Linked DNA regions of Homo sapiens: region 1 is linked to region 2. Evidence: fine-mapped expression QTL. A gene starts in region 2. The other region holds a variant in brackets. All regions are shown on one strand. Distances are from middle to middle.

Region 1 (5,333 bases), 41 kb after region 2:
CGCACAGACGGTCCCCTGGGGTCTCTGTAATTATCATGTCTTCTTTTGCAGCTCTGCTGTGTGACTGGTCTATTTAGGTTAGCAGAGTTGCCGAGGTGAGAGGTGCACTCTGATTGGCCATGGAGGCTGCCCTTGTGTGCCTGGAGCTTTTCCTGACCATGGTACAAAGCTTCCTCATGCAGTGCATGAAGATCCACCTGCATCTTCCCTCTGCTGCCTCTCCCTCTGGCCCTTTGGGCTGTGGTTTTAAATGGTTCTTCATTTAATCCATCAGAATGACCCAGAAGGAAGCAATTGTTTGTAAATGGGTCACTCCCTCAAGTGTGGTGGCAGCCTTCTTATGATGAAGAAATTGGGTCTTTGCAAATAGTAAGTGTCTAACCAAAGACTGGGGTGAGGGGAGAGAGGCCCGCATGTGTTACAAGCTCCTCATGGAAACTAGGCAGTATTCCTATCTTTGTTTTAGAGATGAAGAATCAAGGCTCTGAAAGCAACCATCAGGATGGGCACGGTGGCTCACACCTGTAATCCCAGCACTTTGGGAGGCTGAGGTGGGTGGATCGCTTGAGCCCAGGAGTTTGAGATTGGCCTAGGCAACTTGGCGAAATCCCATCTTTACAAAAGATAAAAAATTAGCTTGATGCCATGGCAGGCGCCCCATGGTCCCAGCTACTCAGGAGGCTGAAGTGGGATGATCTCTTGAGTTCGGGAGGTTGAGGCTGCAGTGAGCCATGATCATGCCACTGCACTCCAGCCTAGGAGACAGAATGAGACCTTGTCTCAAAAAAAAAAAAAAAAAAAAGTGACGGTCACTTAGCCAAGATCACAGAGATAGTTAGTGGAGGAGCTGGAATCTGAACTTCAGCATGTTTGATTCCAAAGTTCAAACTCTCTTCTACTACACCACAGGTACCTGGTGGACGCTGCAAACCCTGTTCACTGATTGATTGACAGAAGTCAGGCTGGTACTCGTGAGCTGGGGACATATGCCCCAGTAACTCAGCAAGCCTCTCAAGCTACATTGCCAAATACTAATCACTCATCTAATCCACACAGGGCATCTGGGGCCCAGCTCCAAGCTACTCCATAACAACAGAGGGCACCATCTTATTTATACTCGGGCCCTGCAGGATCCAACTTGTCTAGGAGATATTCTGGGGATGAAATGGAGGGGACCTCACTGCACAACTCTAATAAATAGAATGCCTGATTTGTAAGGCCATGGTTGCTTGAATATCTGAGGTCCCAGGGATGCCAGCCAACATGCCTGGCTTTCTGGGGTTGGGAGAGGAAGTAACCCACCTCTCCCTCCTCTCTGTAAATACAAATATTATGAGGACCCTCCCATCCTTAGAAACAAGCCTGCTCACCACCATTTTTTCATGATGGTCAATATAGTATGTGGGTTGAAAACACAGATTCTGGAGCCAGATTGCCTGCTTTCAAATCTCAGCTCCAGTATTTACTAGCCACGTGAATTCCAGCAAGTAACTCACCTGTCAAAAGGTATAATGAAAAGACTACAAACTTTGTATAGTTGTAAGGATTAAATGAGCTGAAGTGTGCTGAGTTCTTAGAACATGCCTGGCACACAGTAAGTGCCTTAGGTCTTGTTATTATTGAGTATTGTGCTAGCTCTCCAGCCTTCCCTTCAAAGCTAGACTTCTCAGAGAAGTCTAGAGGCACTAACCCTCAAGCCTGATACCTGGTACAGACCATCTCATAATCTTGTTTCTGCCAACCTGCCTGCAGCCTCCACTGAAACTGCTCTCTTAAAGGGCCCCAGGAGCCTCCTTCCTGAAGGTGGTGGACGATGAGTTCCTTTAGTAGAAGCCATCCCAGTAACTGCCGCCTGCCACACTGCGGCCCTTCCCACCTTCTCAACCCTCTAGTTTTCCTTTGGTTTCCATGCCTCGACACTGGCAATTCTCACCTTTTGACATACCAAAGTTTAAAATGTTAGGTGGAATTAAAATTAACCATCATCCACCTCCTAAAAGCTTTCCCCCTAAACTTCTTTTCCTTTTTTAGACAGGGTCTCACTCTGTCAACCAGGCTGGAGTACAATGGTGCCATCATAGCTCAATGCAGCCTCAACCTCCTGGGCTCAAGCGATCTTCCCACCTCTGCCTCCCAAGTGGCTGTGACTACAGGTGCTTGCCACTGCACAGGGCCCCCGCCAGACTTCTGATAACAGCATGTATTTTGTCCCCACCATTCACCTTTCTCATCAGAGAGATCTGGTAAATGAGGCTTCACTGAACACACAGAGCCCAAGATGTGATCGTTTAACAGCCATCCATCTTTATCCACCAGACTAGATTCCCCAGTGTCCAGAGAAAAGGTTGTTCGCATTTTCATTATGCTATAGGGACCTGCTATAGGAGGCGGGCAGGCATAGGGGCAAGGCAGAGGCAATGAACAGACACTGGCTGGTCTCACTGGCTTATATAGTATGTTAGCTGGACTTTCTGGGCAAAAATCAAAGGTCTCAACTCAGATCTTACACATACATGCAACATACAGCCAAGTCCATAGTCCTGTGACTTGCCAGGTTCATCATCCATCACCCCTTCCCACTGTCTGGAATCATTCATCCCCCGGAAACCTCAGCCCTGAACCAGCCCTGAGTCCAATTCCACCCTGATTTAGAGAAGGGGAGTGGATTAAAGACCTAGCTGACAATTCAGCAACTCCAGCCTGTCTGCTGGCCATACTAGTGTTCGAGGTCCCCACTT[T/C]GAAACTAGGGTTCAAGTCTCCACACCCCAGTCCCTCCATCAAAGATCTGCCTTAATACCAACAGTTCAGGGAGCATTTTCTGCCCCCAACCCCCAACATACACACACCCCTACACACAATGCACGCATACACATACACATACTCACGCATCCTTTGCAAACACCAGAGGCCTGCATCTGATTCAGGGCTGTGTCTCAGGCCTCAAGTCCTGATAACAGTCTCTCTGATGCTGAATGGATAGACATGGACCATGTCATCTTGGGGTTTACAGTAGGCCTGGCACATACCAGGTGCCTGATAAATGTCAGAAGAGCCAAATTCTTGCTGCCTTGCACCTGCTGCATGAAAAGTCATAAGGAACGGCATAAAGAGTACGTCCTTGGGGATGAGACAGCCAAGCTTGGATTTGGGTTCTGGCACTTCGTTGGCTTTGGGATGGTGAACACATTCCTCAACCCCTTTGCACCTCAGTTTCCTCAAGGTTGCGAGGATTAGCAATGACATATGGAAGTGTGTGCTGTAAAAATGCCTGCCTGGGTTTGATCTTGAGGAATGGTGCTATGGAAACAGAATATTATAACTCCCCTCCCCTTTGAGAGGGGAAATAAATCTGAAATATAAATTTTTCTTCAGGAAAAGAATTACTTGTAATGAAAATAAACTATGAAGAAATTACCGTACCTTTGTTTATCCAGTGCAAAAATGCTGCCTCTGCTCTGAAATATTTGTAAGGCCTTTTGGGTTATAAAGTGTGTTAGCTGGACTCTCTGGGCAAAAAATCAAAGGTCTCAACTCTGAGCTTTCTTCTGAGTTTTCACCCTCCCTAAGCTTCCTGATGCTCAAGGTCCAGAAATGCAAGAGATTGCTCAGCTGTGTACTCCATCGTTGCCTCTTTATAAAATATAAATCAGGCTGGGAGTGGTGGCTCACACCTGTAGTCTCAGCACCGTGGGAGGCCAAGGCAGGAGGATCGCTTGAGCTCAGGAGTTTGAGACCAGCCTGTGCAATATAGTGGGATCCCATCTCTACAAAAAAGTAAAACTAAAATATGAATCAGAACCCTATATTCTGTGCCAACTCCTAGCTTTGTGAAGCACATTTTATATTACTGCATGAAGCCACAAAACCTGGCAAGTGTAGGAGACTGCTGAGTGTTACACATTTACTCACTCGAGATATACATGTATAGAATTTGGTTTTGTTTGGGATTTTTAAAAAAAGTATTCTCTCCCTCTGTCCTCCTCCTCCTCTGGTTGTTCCCCAGCACTGTGAATAGCTCCAGGAGCCTTTAGTGTTTGAGGGGGCAGCTTCCTGTGCTGCTTCTCCCTGTTGGAGGGATGTGTAACAAGTTTCTATTGATAAAAGTGCTTTGGACAATTTCAGAAACTAAAATTCATCTCAAAACAAAATAGTAGCGATTGTTACTGCTGTAATTATTGTCAAGTCCTCGTGTATCAGCTTTCCCCCAGACAGTGGTAGTCACCCACTTGCTAAGATACCAAATTTACCTCTTTTTGGGGTCTCCCTCCTTCTGCCTTTTGTCACCTTTCATTTCTTCAATAAATATTTATCGGGCTCCCACTTTGTGCTGGCACAGTCCTGGATGCAGCAGATCCAGAGGCGAATGAGACAGGCACGTGCCTCTCTGCTTCATCCACGTCCTTTCTAGCAGGGTGGCAGATGATAAACAAAACCAACTGATGTTACTCTAGATGGCAATAAAAGTGTTATGGCACTGTAATGGGCTGGAGTGATGGAGGAGGGTACCTATGTCAGACACAGGGCCAAGGAAGACCCCTCGGAAGAGGGTATTTGGGCAGAGAGAGCCAGCTGCATGATCTGGCAGAGGGGGCACAGATTCCCAGGAGACAGAAAGACAGCGTGAAGGTCCAAGAGCAGAACAAGCCTGGAGTGTCTGAGAAACAGAAAGGCCGGTACGAGGAGGGGAAGGGGATATTAGATGAGGTTAGGAGGTAAGGACAGGCAGCAAGTCACACAGGGCTGTAGGCCAAGGTTTCATTCCAAGGGCTGTGAGAAACCGAGAGCGGATTAAAAAGATCCAGCTTGTGGCTCCGCAGAGAAGGCACTGCAGGATTTGCGAGCAGAAGCCAAGACCACTCGGGAGGCTGTTGTGAAAGTCCCAGTAAGAGATGAGGCGGCATGGACTGGAATGGTGGAGAGAGAGGTGAGAAGGCGCTGGAGGAAGGATCTATTTCAGAGCTGATAGGACTCGACAGTGGGTTGAGGTAGGTGTGAAGGAAAGAGAGGAAAGAAAGCAGGACCTCTGCCTCCCCAGTACATGCTTCACCAGCCTTCCTGACCAGCCAAGACCCTGGCCCAGCTCCCACCTCCACCCAAGCACCATCCTGATTTCCCTCCTCACAGGCTACATGTTCCAGAGCCCCCCTCCTCTCTCACCTGCACTCTCACCTCCCCAGCTTCTGTTGTAACTCCAAGAAGGAGAAGGAAGGAAAAAAGGACGTGACTCGAATCTGCAATGGCAGCTGCTCTTGGCCCAGTGTGAATGTGTCTGGGATGTAAATCTGTTGTCTCTCTGGATAAAACAGGAAACAATTACTCATGCAGATGAAAAA
Region 2 (5,373 bases):
TACCAAAAACTGTAGGCATTCCTGAACTAACATCATATATTTTGTCCATCTCTTTTCTTAACTATTCCCTCCTCCCACTAGGCAATGTTATAGGAGGATTGGGGCCTACTGAGTTAGAAACAAGCTTAGAGAGCAGGTATTTTGCCCCATTCATTACAAAACTATGGCACTGAGGCCAAGTTGCAAAGGATTTGTCAAGTTCACAGGTGATCGTGGTAAAGGCAAAACTAGATCTAAATCAGGACATGAACGCATCCATTAAGGATTCTGTCAAAATGATTGCTTCCTGTAGCTTTCTGTGTGAAACATCCATTTGCTTATCCTCAGGGAAATCAGACTAACAAAGACTTGGAAAGGAACATAAAATTCTAAAGCTAGGCTTATGGCCTTTATAACCCTTAGATGGGGCAGATAACATGCCACGGAGGCTCAGAGACAGCTCTGAGACTATGCAATAGCTACTGTTTCCCCTCTTGTGGAATGTTCACTTAAAAAAGCTCAAGGGCTCTATAAGTTGCCCAATGAACTCCACAGACATCCTTAATTCATTTTCATTTATTGGAACCCTCTCTCAAATAATTTTCTAAATCTCACGCAATAATGATGTATATTCTTGCTCAATATTAAGAAGCCCTCATGCAAAACTGAAGAAATAAATTGTTCTTACAAAAGAAGGAAAAAGGAATTATATTCTCAGAACATTCTGCTTACCCAGACACACAGATCTGATTCTTGCTCCATTGTTTGTGGCATTCTGGATCCTAGGGCCATTGATGAGGCTGGGTCAGTGGCCACACTGGCTCCTGGGTACCCCTTCCCTGGCCACAAAAGTCCATCCCAGCAGCACTATTTAAACTGGACTTATTTCTCACTTCACAGCTCTGGCCTGGGCTGAGACCTCCCCAACAGAGCTTATTAGCGAGCTTGTCATCTTGCTCTGTGGCTATCTAGGTCTGGAGTCAAGAGCCATTCACAGGAAAATCAGCATGAAACCTTTAAGTTTGCATATTAAATATTAACACCACTAAGGGCTACAGTGGAAAAGAGGTTTGCTGAGCTCAAGGGCCCTCACTCCACCCCCAACTTCCCTTGGCTTTTCTCTTCTATGTTGTGTTCCTGGTAAATCCCATTATGTCTCGACTACCTTAGGCCCTCTCAGCCCCTTCTTGGGAATTAGGCTCTCTGGATAGGCAAAGAGGCAGATACCCAGCTGCCAGGTGAATCAGATGTCCTCATCAGATCTCTTAATTTCCACTTTGGTGATATTTCAAAGGATCACAAATTATGTTCTTAGTGCCTGGTCAGAGAACTGGGAAAGAGCTGGAAGATGAGACACCAAACTCCATCCCATGGTGATGTTTGAACCAGGCTGGAGCTGGTTTCACATGTTTTTCATTGTGCATGACTTTCTTAATTGCCTTAGTGGGAATGCGTTACTGCAAAATAAAGTGAAATTGTTTTCCTTATTGCTTGTAATTTACAGAGGGGTGGTTTTGATCATATAAACCAGGCACTTTTCAAATCCATTGATCTTAGGGTGGAAGGAGGGATTTCTTTTTAAGTATTCATTTCGAACTATGCTTTCACTAGTAAACTCAAAGCCCAAGGGCAAAAACCCATGATTCTCCATTTTGTAATAGCTATTAGATGTCCACAGCACATCAGACCTGTGGAAAACGCATGCTTTGTGTATGGAAGAGGGAGAGGGAGCGTCAGGAGTTGTCCTTTGCCAAAAAACGTACTCTGACACTCAAAGGCACAGGCTGGTGGAGATCCAGGGAACCCGGGAAAGCCCAGGCCTAACTCAGGCCCGCGCGGGTCTCTTCTGATCCCATAAGATGAGGAGTGGGTCCTGGCTCTGGGCATCCTGGTGTCGACTGTGAGTTCCCAGCAGAGGCCCAGAGTCCCGGTCCGGCAGCCGAGGGAAGCGGGGGGGTCTTCCAGAAGAAGAAAGGGCCAAGGTCACCCCGGTGCCTCTCCAGCAGCAGCAGAGGGCGGCGGTCGGTGTCGCTGCTGGCCGGGGCCTCGAGGAAGGCGCGGGCCAGCTGGGGCCGGGTCTGCGTTCCCAGGAGCTGCCACCGTTCCAGGGAGCAAGTCAGGCCGGGACGTAGCGCCTGCGCGGGACCCTCACTTGCCACCAAGACCCCCACAAACCCCGCCCCATCCTGCCTTACGCCCCGCCCCAAGGTCGTTCTCCCGACCCGGGGTCCCGCCCCAAGGCCGTCCTCCCGCCCCGCCGCTTGGTGGCGGCCGCATGCTGCCCGGATATAAAGGGTCGGCCCCACATCCCAGGGACCAGCGAGCGGCCTTGAGAGGCTCTGGCTCTTGCTTCTTAGGCGGCCCGAGGACGCCATGGCCGAGTGCCCGACACTCGGGGAGGCAGTCACCGACCACCCGGACCGCCTGTGGGCCTGGGAGAAGTTCGTGTATTTGGACGAGAAGCAGCACGCCTGGCTGCCCTTAACCATCGAGGTACAGCCAGCTTTGGAGCGGATGGCGAGGCAGCAGGGGCAGCCCCTGGGAGCTTGGGATGCCCTAGGAAGGGCGAGGACTCAAGGAGCACTCACTATGGGGCAGGGAGGATCCCCACAGATGAAGCCACTTTGAGCCGGGCTCTGGAGGATGAATAGGAGTTCTCCAGGCAGGGAAGAAGGGTGGGAAAACCGCAAAGGAATGTCGGTCAAAGGGGTGGACCCAGTGCCTGTGGAGTGTGACTATAATGTTGACTACAGCAGGCATTTTCTGGGCTTCGGGGTCCTAATCCTTAAAAATGGGTATCTCTAAGTGACTCATCCATATGGCCGATTATCGGAATCATCTCAGGTGGGTCCCAGAAATCTGTATTTTTAAAAAGAACCCTCAACAGTTTAGGGTCAACCAGGCATAGCAAACACTGGCCTAGAGTGTGAAGTATTTTCCACTACCTCTGGGCTTTATTTAGAAAACAAATTTAACAAGTGATGTCGTAGTATAAGCGCCGGTATTGAATCAATATTGACTTTTTTAATGTGTGATGCCTTAAGATGGGTCCTTAATCCATGTTAAGTTTTTGTTAAAGAAATAGATAAGTCTTTTACAAGTATTTGGATTTACTCAATGAAAAAGAGTCAAAAAATGTTCAAACTCTCTCCAAACATACACTGAAGAAAGCATAAAAATTAAAAAATATATTAGAACACGTATGTCCAGTAGCAATCAAAAATTATTGAGTGTTGACTGTGTCTCTACAGATGGGAAACTGAGGCACAAAAATGTACATTTGTCCGAGGTAAGATTGCTAGTAGGTAATGGGGTTGGAATTCTAGGCTCTTAACCACCACAAAATCTGCATTTTTATTGGCATTTCAATTTTTTAAATATGTTTTTACTTTAAAAATCAAGTTAAATACTTACTTTTTTAAAATCAAAATTTGAAGAAATAATTTGAAGATTCAGTGGATTTCTTTTTTTAAATCTCTGAGAAATCTCTTCTTCAACGTGACACCAAAACCACGAACCAGACAGTTTTTCATAAAATCATGATACATGCTCCACAAAAAATAACCCACTAGCAAACTGTGGGACAGATTTTGCCTCACATCATTGAAAAGGCCAGTATTCTTTTTCTCTCTTTCTTTCTTTGTTGTTTTTTTTTTTTCCTGTAGATACAGGGTCTCGCTCTGTGACCCAGGCTGGTCTTAAACTCCTGGCCTCAAGCGATCCTCCTGCCTCTGCCTTCCAAAGCACTGGAATTACAAGTGTGAGCCGCTGCAACCCGCCAGAAAAAAGTGTGCCTTTCATGGCCCTGTCTGGGTGGCTAGACACGTGTGTGTGCTGGTGGTCCTGGCCCAGCCAGAGTCCCTGAGAGGAGCATGCATGGCCTAAGGAAGTGAGCTTCAGGGAACAGTGATGACCATCATTTCACACTCGGACCCCTGCCCAGATGGGTGGATGGCTGGCAGGAGGGATTCCGGTTTTCTGCGCCTGGAGAAGCCCTGGCAAGCGGAACCTGAAAGTATGCCCTGTCCTTTTCTTCTCCTCAGATAAAGGATAGGTTACAGTTACGGGTGCTCTTGCGTCGGGAAGACGTCGTCCTGGGGAGGCCTATGACCCCCACCCAGATAGGCCCAAGCCTGCTGCCTATCATGTGGCAGCTCTACCCTGATGGACGATACCGATCCTCAGACTCCAGTTTCTGGCGCTTAGTGTACCACATCAAGGTGAGTGTCTTTCTCCCAGAGGTCCATCGGGTGATCTTGGGTTTGCCCTCCTCCATGTCTGGCCTTAGTGGTTTATCTTCCCTCCATCCCAGTCCCAAAAGCATTAAAAAATGGGGGAAATGTACAAGTGCAGATTTCTAAAGGACTTTACCAGAGAGAAGATAGATCCTCTGAGGTCTCTAACAGAACCCTACCTCCACTTCCTCCCAGCCACCAGCTAGCCGCAGGAAGACATCTCTGGTGGGCAGTCACAGGCTGAAGGCTGGTGGGAGGAGGGGCAGTCTCCAAGAGCCCCTGAAATCCTCACACCTGGGTTCCTACCTGCTGTTTCCAGCTAGGGGAAGGCGCAGGAGTGAGGAATGGAGGGAGTGGAGGGCTCTGGCCGATCAATGCCTTCTCTCTCTCTCTGCCTCTCAGATTGACGGCGTGGAGGACATGCTTCTCGAGCTGCTGCCAGATGACTGATGTATGGTGAGCTCCACTGGAGCCTGACCCCTCTTAGTCCACAGTGGCTGTATCAGAAAGAAAGACCACCCCTTCTCCATGAAGGCAGTGCTAACCCCTCCCCGACTGCTGCCATCTGAGGGTCCCTAGGGATGGGAGAGGCTTCCTGGAGGCACTCATGTCTCCCTTACCACTTCGGGAGCCAAGGGCTTTGTAGGCAGCCCCCTTTATCGCAGCTGCTCATATCTATAAAGTACTTCACAAGTTTCAGCTGGCACTTTCATTTACCATTGCTTTTTTTTTTTTTTGAGATGAGTCTGGCTCTGTGGCCCAGGCTAGAGTGTAGTGGTGCAATCTCAGCTCACTGCAAGCTCTGCCTCCCGGGTTCACACCATTCTCCTGCCTCAGCCCTCGGAGTAGCTGGGACTACAGGCGCCCGCCACCACACCTGGCTAATTTTTTTTTTTTTTTTTTTTTTTTAGTAGAGACGGGGTTTCACCGTGTTAGCCAGGATGGTCTCGATCTCCTGACCTCATGATCTGCCCGCCTCGGCCTCCCAAAGTGCTGGGATTACAGGCATGAGCCACCACGTCCGGCCTTACCATTGCTTTATTAAATAAGCACTGGTGCTTGATTATATCAGCTGAGCCAGATATTAGATACGCTATTGAGTTTTGAGGAAATAAGAGTACAAAACTCAGAAATGAGTTGAAGTATAGTGACATCTTCA

What was found. PIP is the estimated chance that this variant, and not a neighbour inherited with it, causes the effect.
Region 1: its variant is the best candidate, but not a certain one, in a credible set for the expression of TCL1A in whole blood (TOPMed, PIP 0.67).

What each region holds. Positions count from the first base shown.
Region 1 is chr14:95,670,402-95,675,734 of GRCh38, reverse strand. It overlaps LOC124903372, which reads right to left. Exons shown (of 2, transcript XM_047432042.1): 2 at 5,321-5,333. It overlaps TCL6 (T cell leukemia/lymphoma 6), which reads right to left. Exons shown (of 8, transcript NR_028288.2): 6 at 5,158-5,293; 7 at 4,248-4,404; 8 at 2,283-3,764. Among named protein-coding and RNA genes, the nearest start is that of TCL1B, 13 kb to the left of the region's middle. The variant T/C (reference allele first, on the strand shown) is at 2,739.
Region 2 is chr14:95,711,046-95,716,418 of GRCh38, reverse strand. TCL1A (TCL1 family AKT coactivator A) reads left to right here and starts at 2,294. Exons shown (of 4, transcript NM_021966.3): 1 at 2,294-2,472; 2 at 4,023-4,199; 3 at 4,617-4,670. The coding sequence starts at 2,353. The coding sequence ends at 4,664. LOC107984703 (a long non-coding RNA gene) reads right to left here and starts at 936. Exons shown (of 3, transcript NR_148060.1): 1 at 712-936. RefSeq lists a silencer at 2,040-2,279 and enhancers at 2,510-2,559, 3,674-3,893, 3,934-4,093, 4,134-4,233.